Homo sapiens: one gene and its partner. The protein of the gene in region 1 purifies or fractionates together with the protein of each later gene. This does not show direct contact. Each region holds a gene or a part of one and is shown on either strand. Other genes may lie near its edges.

Region 1 (3,500 bases):
TTGATGTTCTAACAATGACTCAGTATCTGAGAGAACTGCCCGGAGGAGGGTAATTCAGTTCTCTTATTATACTGGGTGCATTTTAAAGAAACATTTCTTACATGCAAGAACCACACTACCCATATCCTTGAGGGATTTAGAGATAGAAAAGCACCATTTCCAACTAGCAAAAGACTCTCAGAAGTAAATAATCTGTGTTCCACCAGAACTCATATATAGGGAGGGAAGCTTTTAGTTATCTCCAAGCACTGGAGAAGTGAATTAAAACCATCAGGCTGATTCCTGAAACAAAAATTCATCATTCAAAAAAGATGTAGAATCAGCCAGGTAAAGTATGAAAGGCTGGGGGGCTGGAGATCAGAAAGGGCAACACCTGCATCATTCACCATCCACATGGCAAAGGCATGAGGACAAAGTCATAGCCCACAGGGAGGTCTCTGAGCATGCACAGCCGGCCACTGAAAGGCACATGAAAAGGATTCAGTTATGGCGAGATGCTGACTCCGCGCATGATCTCTTGAAAAGGAAGCAAAGAACCTTGGGGAGAAAGCATTGACAGGGAGAGGAAGTACCTGTGGAGGCCTCAGCAGAGAGTACTGGTGTTCTATAGCCCCGGATCACCCCATAGATGGAGACTCTATAAGGCGTGGCAGCCTCGAGGCCCGGGATGTCCACAGCCCTGAGGCTGCCAGGCAACGTGAGGTTCTGGGCTGCCTCCACTTTGTTGACCTCCTGCACCTGAATGACAAAGTGCTCATAGGCATTGTCAGCTGCGGTCCAGTTGAGTCTGAGGCCATCCCAGCCAACCTCAGACACGGCTAAATCTCCCAGCTGTGGGAGATCCTCTGAAGAAGGACAGAAAAGTATTTGTCAGTTCTATAAACCAAAAATGAGGAAACCAAACATCCCACAGCCCAACTCTAGGAAAGAGAGAAAGGGGAAAGATAATTTTTTTTTTTAATTCTTGGTCTCTGAGCATTTGCAATTTGAACTGTGGTTCCCTGGCCACAGTTGTCTTCAGGAGTTGAAAATGGCCAGAAAGGGAAATATCTACATGGTTTATCCTTGAGATGGCAAAGACATCTGCACCAATGCACAACCCACCGGGAGCATGCATTGCTAGCAGGTGAAATTCACATGGAAAAGTAGGATTGTGGGTTAGGGTAAGAGATACAGCAATGGTTACAAGTGCAGAATTTGGAGGCAAGTAGTCCTTGATTAGAATCCCAATACTAGCATTTGCTAGCTGCATAATCTTGGGCATGTCACTCAGCTTCTCTCTGAGCCACCCTCTCTTTACCTTTAAATGGAGTTGATGGTACTGTTTCATGGGATTGCGTGATGATTAAATGGTAATATTTATCAACTTCTTAGTATCATACCTGATACATGGCGAGTGCCCAATAAGTGTCAGCTTAATAAAGAAATCATTGTTCAAGTGTTTTCCCTTGGAATTTCTTACTCATGTCAGGGAGAAATCCCTGCTTTATTTCATTATTTATAATTAGAAAGATTATCTCATCACTAGCCACTGGCTACCTGCCTGGGTTGATAAAGTGTATGCTGTCTCAGGTGTGAACAAGTATGATGTTTTTTCTTTGGTCTTCTATCAGCTTTCAGGGATCAAAAGTTGTGTACTGGGTTCTCAGCTTGTTTCTTCTTCCACCTTTTTCTGCTCGTACTTTATGTCTAAAGGAAGAATGGCTGTATCACAGAGCAAAGCTGTTTGTGTGAAATGAGTGTGCCTACTTTTAATTAAAAGAAAGGAGATTTTTCTCAGTAAATGGTGCAGAACAGAACCCACTATTACTGCTTCTACAATGTAGAAAGGAAATTTAACGTAGTTGTTATTGGTGATTTAGAAAGTTTGGATTTAGGATATGGAAAAACCCATTGTTTTGTGGGATGCTTCTGAGGGTTAAATGCAGTCTCTCAGCCACTGTTTTGAAGGCTGAAGTGGCCATGGGTTAGAAGTTAGGGAGGAGAATATCTGCAGGGATTTCAACCAAAAATAGTTGAAAGATATAGATACTTGCTCTTGGGTATCCAAGGATTCAATGCCCTGTGAGAGTCTGAGCAACCTCTGAGCAACCTCTTGCTTTTAAGAGGGGTTATTTTCAAACTGTGTTCCACATAGATCTGGGGCTTTTCTAGAAGAACTGTGTTGAGAACATGGGTGGAGGTATCCCCCTCTTACTTCCAGGCACACCAAGAACAGCTGTTCACTTATCTGTCAAATAGTAGGGTTCCTTGGAAGATTTCATTTGCAAAAGGAGTTGTACTGCTAAAAACAAAAGTTTGCGGACTACAGAGGAAGATATGAGCATCTTGCACACAGACCACACCTGTCTCAAAGGCCCTTTTTGCTCTTGTTTGATCTGAAGATATTCCAGGCAACACAGGAATAAAACCTGGCCCCCTTATTTTTGGAATTTTATGTAGTTTCTAGCAACCACCAAGTTTATCTGTTATATAAGAGCAAGGAAAACAATTGTTTTGAATTGAGTGATTTGGATTGCATTATCAAAAGGCAGCATATGTAGAGTGGGGCATGGGCTTAGGGCTCAGCACAGAAACCCTATCACCAAAAAGTTGGCCCTTTTTCCCATAGCCCTTTTTGAAGCTATTTCTAGAAATCTCATGTACAGCACAGTTTTTTATAACAGATGGAGCAGCTCATTTTTGGTGGAAAATTGAGAGGAATTGTTTTTCCTTCCCAAATTGAATGAAAAGCATTGAAGTCAAAGGTGGCTGTCCTTTCTTGGAAATGTCCCTGCTTTTTGTATCTGTTGAGGAGAGAGTCCTAGATAGTTTCAGCAGAAGCTAACTGCATCATTTCTAAAGGTTATTATGTAGAGATCTGCCTATCAGGTGGGTGTTAGTTGGTGGCTCTGAGGCTAGTAATAAGGTTTTTCTAGAAAGTTCTGATCTTATTTTTGTGCCACAGCCCTAACGTTTGTGCTATTTTAAAAATCATGACTCTGTTGCTGTATGATAAATTTAGCTATTTGCTATTCAGTATTTACTACGTGATGGGCGCTTTACTAAGCACTGACATTCATTAACTTATTTATTGCTCACGACAGTTTCCTGAAGTAGGGTTCATTGCTGATTTAAAGATACAAAAAGGAGGCTCAGGGATGTAAAGAAATATACCCAAGAATAGAGGTAGGGCACGCTGGCTCATGCCTGTAATCCCAGCACTTTGGGAGGCCAAGGTGAGAAGATGGCTTGAGCCCGGGAGTTTGAGACCAGGCTGGGCAAAATGGTGAAACTCCATCTCTACAAAAAATACAAAAAACTTAGCTGAGTGTGGTGGCTCACACCTGTGGTTCCAGCTACTGTAGAGGCTGAGGCAGGAGAATCACTTGAGTCTAGGAGTTCGAGGCTGCAGTGAGCCATGGTCACACCATTGCATTCTAGCCTGGGCAAAAGAATGAGACCCTGACTCAAAAAAAAAAAAAAAAGTATATATCTATATATACACACACACATATATA
Region 2 (3,500 bases), on another chromosome or scaffold:
GTACTAGAGGAAGGAGAAAAAACCCCATTTCAAAAAGCTAAGCTTTCAAAGCTCCTGGCATTGATCTGCCATAATAAATGTGAGATAGGAGAGAATCCTGGTTCTAAATTTAGAGAAATTCCATAAGATAAGGAGGTTGTAGAGACTGTGAAGAATTGAAGGGGATGGGGAAGGGGGGAAGAGAGTAGTAAACAGAGCTGTGAAGAGGAGAGTCTGACTTTTTGCTGTGAACTCTGGGCATTTAGCACTTTATTTTATTCATTCATTCATTCAACCAGCCAACAAATTCATTTCAATTAAAATTTATTCAACATCTTCTATATACTGTTCTTGAGATGAGCACTCATTATGGGTGGCAAGTATTTAATTTCTTTGTCTCCACCAAAATAGGCAAATATCAGAGGAAGGAAACAACTTCCTTTTAAGTAGAATTTATGATCCCAAAGTACACGCCAAAAGAGTTTGGCTGTTTAAAAGCCACCCACACACTAAATGATCACTTGTAAAGTTCTTGGTCAGTTCTACAAAATTCTACATCTAATTGCTAAAGAGCCCACTTCATGAAGTCTTGAAGGGCTCCCCCTCTCAAAAAACTCCTTGACTGGCTTCCAAACAGGAAAGGTCCTCACATTCCTAGATACAAGCTTTTGCAAGAGCCGCACAGGCTCTGTCTCCAAAGAGAAGCCCTCAGATGGGCTGCCAAACCTGACAAACGAGTCACTGGTTCCCAGCTCCCCCAGGATCCCAGAGAGGAGAGAGGGGCCTCCACAGGGAGAGGAGCAGCACAGAGAGGATCAGGGTGAGTGGCTGCAGGCCCTGTTATCAGAAAGAGAGAAAAGCCAGAGCCCTCTGCAGAAACCAGAGCCTGACTCTCCCTCCCAGGTACAGGACATCCCAATCAATGTTGAAGTGACACTCATCAGAGCCAGGCTGATGCATGCAACATACACCCCTCTAAGAGTTTCTAATTTTTTCAATTCATTTAATTAACTGCAGCTATCTGGACAAAAATCAGAATAGTGACATCCTTTTCTTCAAGGGGCTTGCCTATAGAGGCTTATCAAAATGAAAATGAAAATGGAAATGAAGAATTAGGGTGACTCTTATAGGGGTCACAAAGTTCTCTTTGTCATCTTCCTCAGGACCACATGTCCTCTAGAGCTCTAGGATCATTGGGTCTGGCCTCCAGTGTTTGCTGTGAACACTAACCTCCATTCCTTAGTGTAGTTCTTCATCTCCCACTGCCTGTAGGACACTGTCACATGGGGGACTGTCCCTCATTTATTTTACTGCACTAAATCCTACAGATCCTGCCAAAAATTCAAAGACAAATGCTGAGTGCTATCACATCCCTAATACTATATCCTTCCTGATACTCTTCAGCAAAACGTCAGCATTTCTAATTTCCATATATGGTTCAGCATTAACCAATTTCCATATATGTCTCTATTCTCTTCATCTTCACAGTGATATCTCAGACTCAGTCTGAACTCTCTTGGATGGGCTGTAGACCACCCCTCTTCTAAACCTTGTCTCCAGAAGTCAAAAAGCTACAATAAAGTCCTGCTTTTACCTCTCATTTTCTCTGTGAAATCCAACCACCTCCATCAATGACTATCAACCTTTGAACCAAGTCAACATGTCTCAGTCTCCACCCAGATGGAGGCCTCCATTGGGCAGTGTCTTAATTTGTCTTCTGTTGTTTACAACAAAATACTTGAAATTGGGTAATTCACAAAGAAAAGGAATTTACTTCTTACAATTATGGAGGCTGAGAAGTCCAAAGTTGAGAGGTCACATCTGGTGAGGGCCTTCTGGCTAGTGGTGACTGCAGAGTGCCAGGGTACTTACGGTATCACATGGCGACAAAGCTGAGTGTGCTAATGTGCTAGCTCAGGTCTCAATTCCTCTTCTTATAAAGCAACCAGGCCCACTCCATGATAATCCAGTAATCCATGAATGAATAAATTAATCCATTCCTGAGGGCAGAGCCCTCATGACCCAGTCACCTTTCAAAGGCCCCACCTCTCAATACTGTCACATTGAGGATTAAGTTTCAACATGATTTTCAGAGGGGACAAATATTCAACCATAGCGGGCAACCTTGCACTCATCTGTCTTATGTTACTGCCTGTGACTCCTTCATCCATTTCTCTGGCCCCTTTGCTAATAGGTTGCTCTCTCAACCTTCTCCTGGGTCATGTTTTTGCTCAGAACAATCTCTCTTGATACCTCATTCTCAATATCCATTCTTTTTAGCCCTTTCAACCTGACTTAAATTCCAGATAAACAAAACATTCCCCACATTACAGAGATCTATATAACTCAGCTGTCTCTAACCCCATCCCTAAAATGACAAAAACAAAACACTCCTCTTTCCCCACAAAAAGCACAGCTAAACATTAGTCCTCTATGTCTCCCATCAATAAGTATTTCAAAGGTCTACACCATAACTTTTTTGCTCTGTGAACTACCTATGAGAGTTCAAGAAATCTCAGATTAACTGAATTGACAAACACTATTTGTTCACATTTTTTTTTCAGATACAATTACACCTTGACATTCCTGCAATATCAGGTGCAACATCTGGTCACACCTGACAGGAATATCCATGGAGAAAAAGGGCACCAACTGCAATTGTTTTTAATGGCAAAGATGCCATTGCTTTGAATCTTCCAGTTTCCAGTAACTTTGCAATATAAAGTTAGTAAGCCAAACTTTAAGAACGCCATGTAGAACTCAGTCCTTCAAGCAAATTAGATTACTGTTTGCCAAAGTCTATCTCCAAAGAACTATTAAAACAAGAACTCAAGTCCCAGAGCTCTTTAAAATATTGGAAGAAACTTCAATGTGGGTAATTGAAAGAACATCCCCTATCCAAACAGAATCCTCCTTTCTTTTTTTTTTTTTTTCCCCTTTCTTTTTTATTTATTTATTTATTTATTTATTTATTTTTTATTATACTCTAAGTTTTAGGGTACATGTGCACATTGTGCAGGTTAGTTACATATGTATACATGTGCCATGCTGGTGCGCTGCACCCACTAACGTGTCATCTAGCATTAGGTATATCTCCCAATGCTATCCCTCCCCCCTCCCCCAACCCCACCACAGTCCCCAGAGTGTGATATTCCCCTTCCTGTGTCCATGTGATCTCATTGTTCAATTCCCACCTATGAGTGAGAATATGCAGTGTTTGGTTTTTTGTTCTTGCGATAGTTTACTGAGAATGATGGTTTCCAATTTCATCCATGTCCCTACAAAGGACATGAACTCATCATTTTTTAAGGCTGCATAGTATTCCATGGTGTATATGTGCCACATTTTCTTAATCCAGTCTATCATTGTTGGACATTTGGGTTGGTTCCAAGTCTTTGCTATTGTGAATAGTGCCGCAATAAACATACGTGTGCATGTGTCTTTATAGCAGCATGATTTATAGTCCTTTGGGTATATACCCAGTAATGGGATGGCTGGGTCAAATGGTATTTCTAGTTTTC

Evidence for each region.
Region 2: the proteins of TNC (region 1) and NID2 purify together in Homo sapiens (affinity purification with mass spectrometry, with the first as the bait; one study listed by BioGRID). This does not show direct contact.

The regions. Positions count from the first base shown.
Region 1 is NC_000009.12:115,059,158-115,062,657, forward strand, and holds part of TNC (tenascin isoform 1 precursor), read right to left. Parts: intron 846-3,500; coding exon 573-845; intron 1-572. UniProt on the Homo sapiens protein: Extracellular matrix protein implicated in guidance of migrating neurons as well as axons during development, synaptic plasticity as well as neuronal regeneration. Promotes neurite outgrowth from cortical neurons grown on a monolayer of astrocytes.
Region 2 is NC_000014.9:52,062,560-52,066,059, forward strand, and holds part of NID2 (nidogen-2 precursor), read right to left. Parts: intron 1-3,500.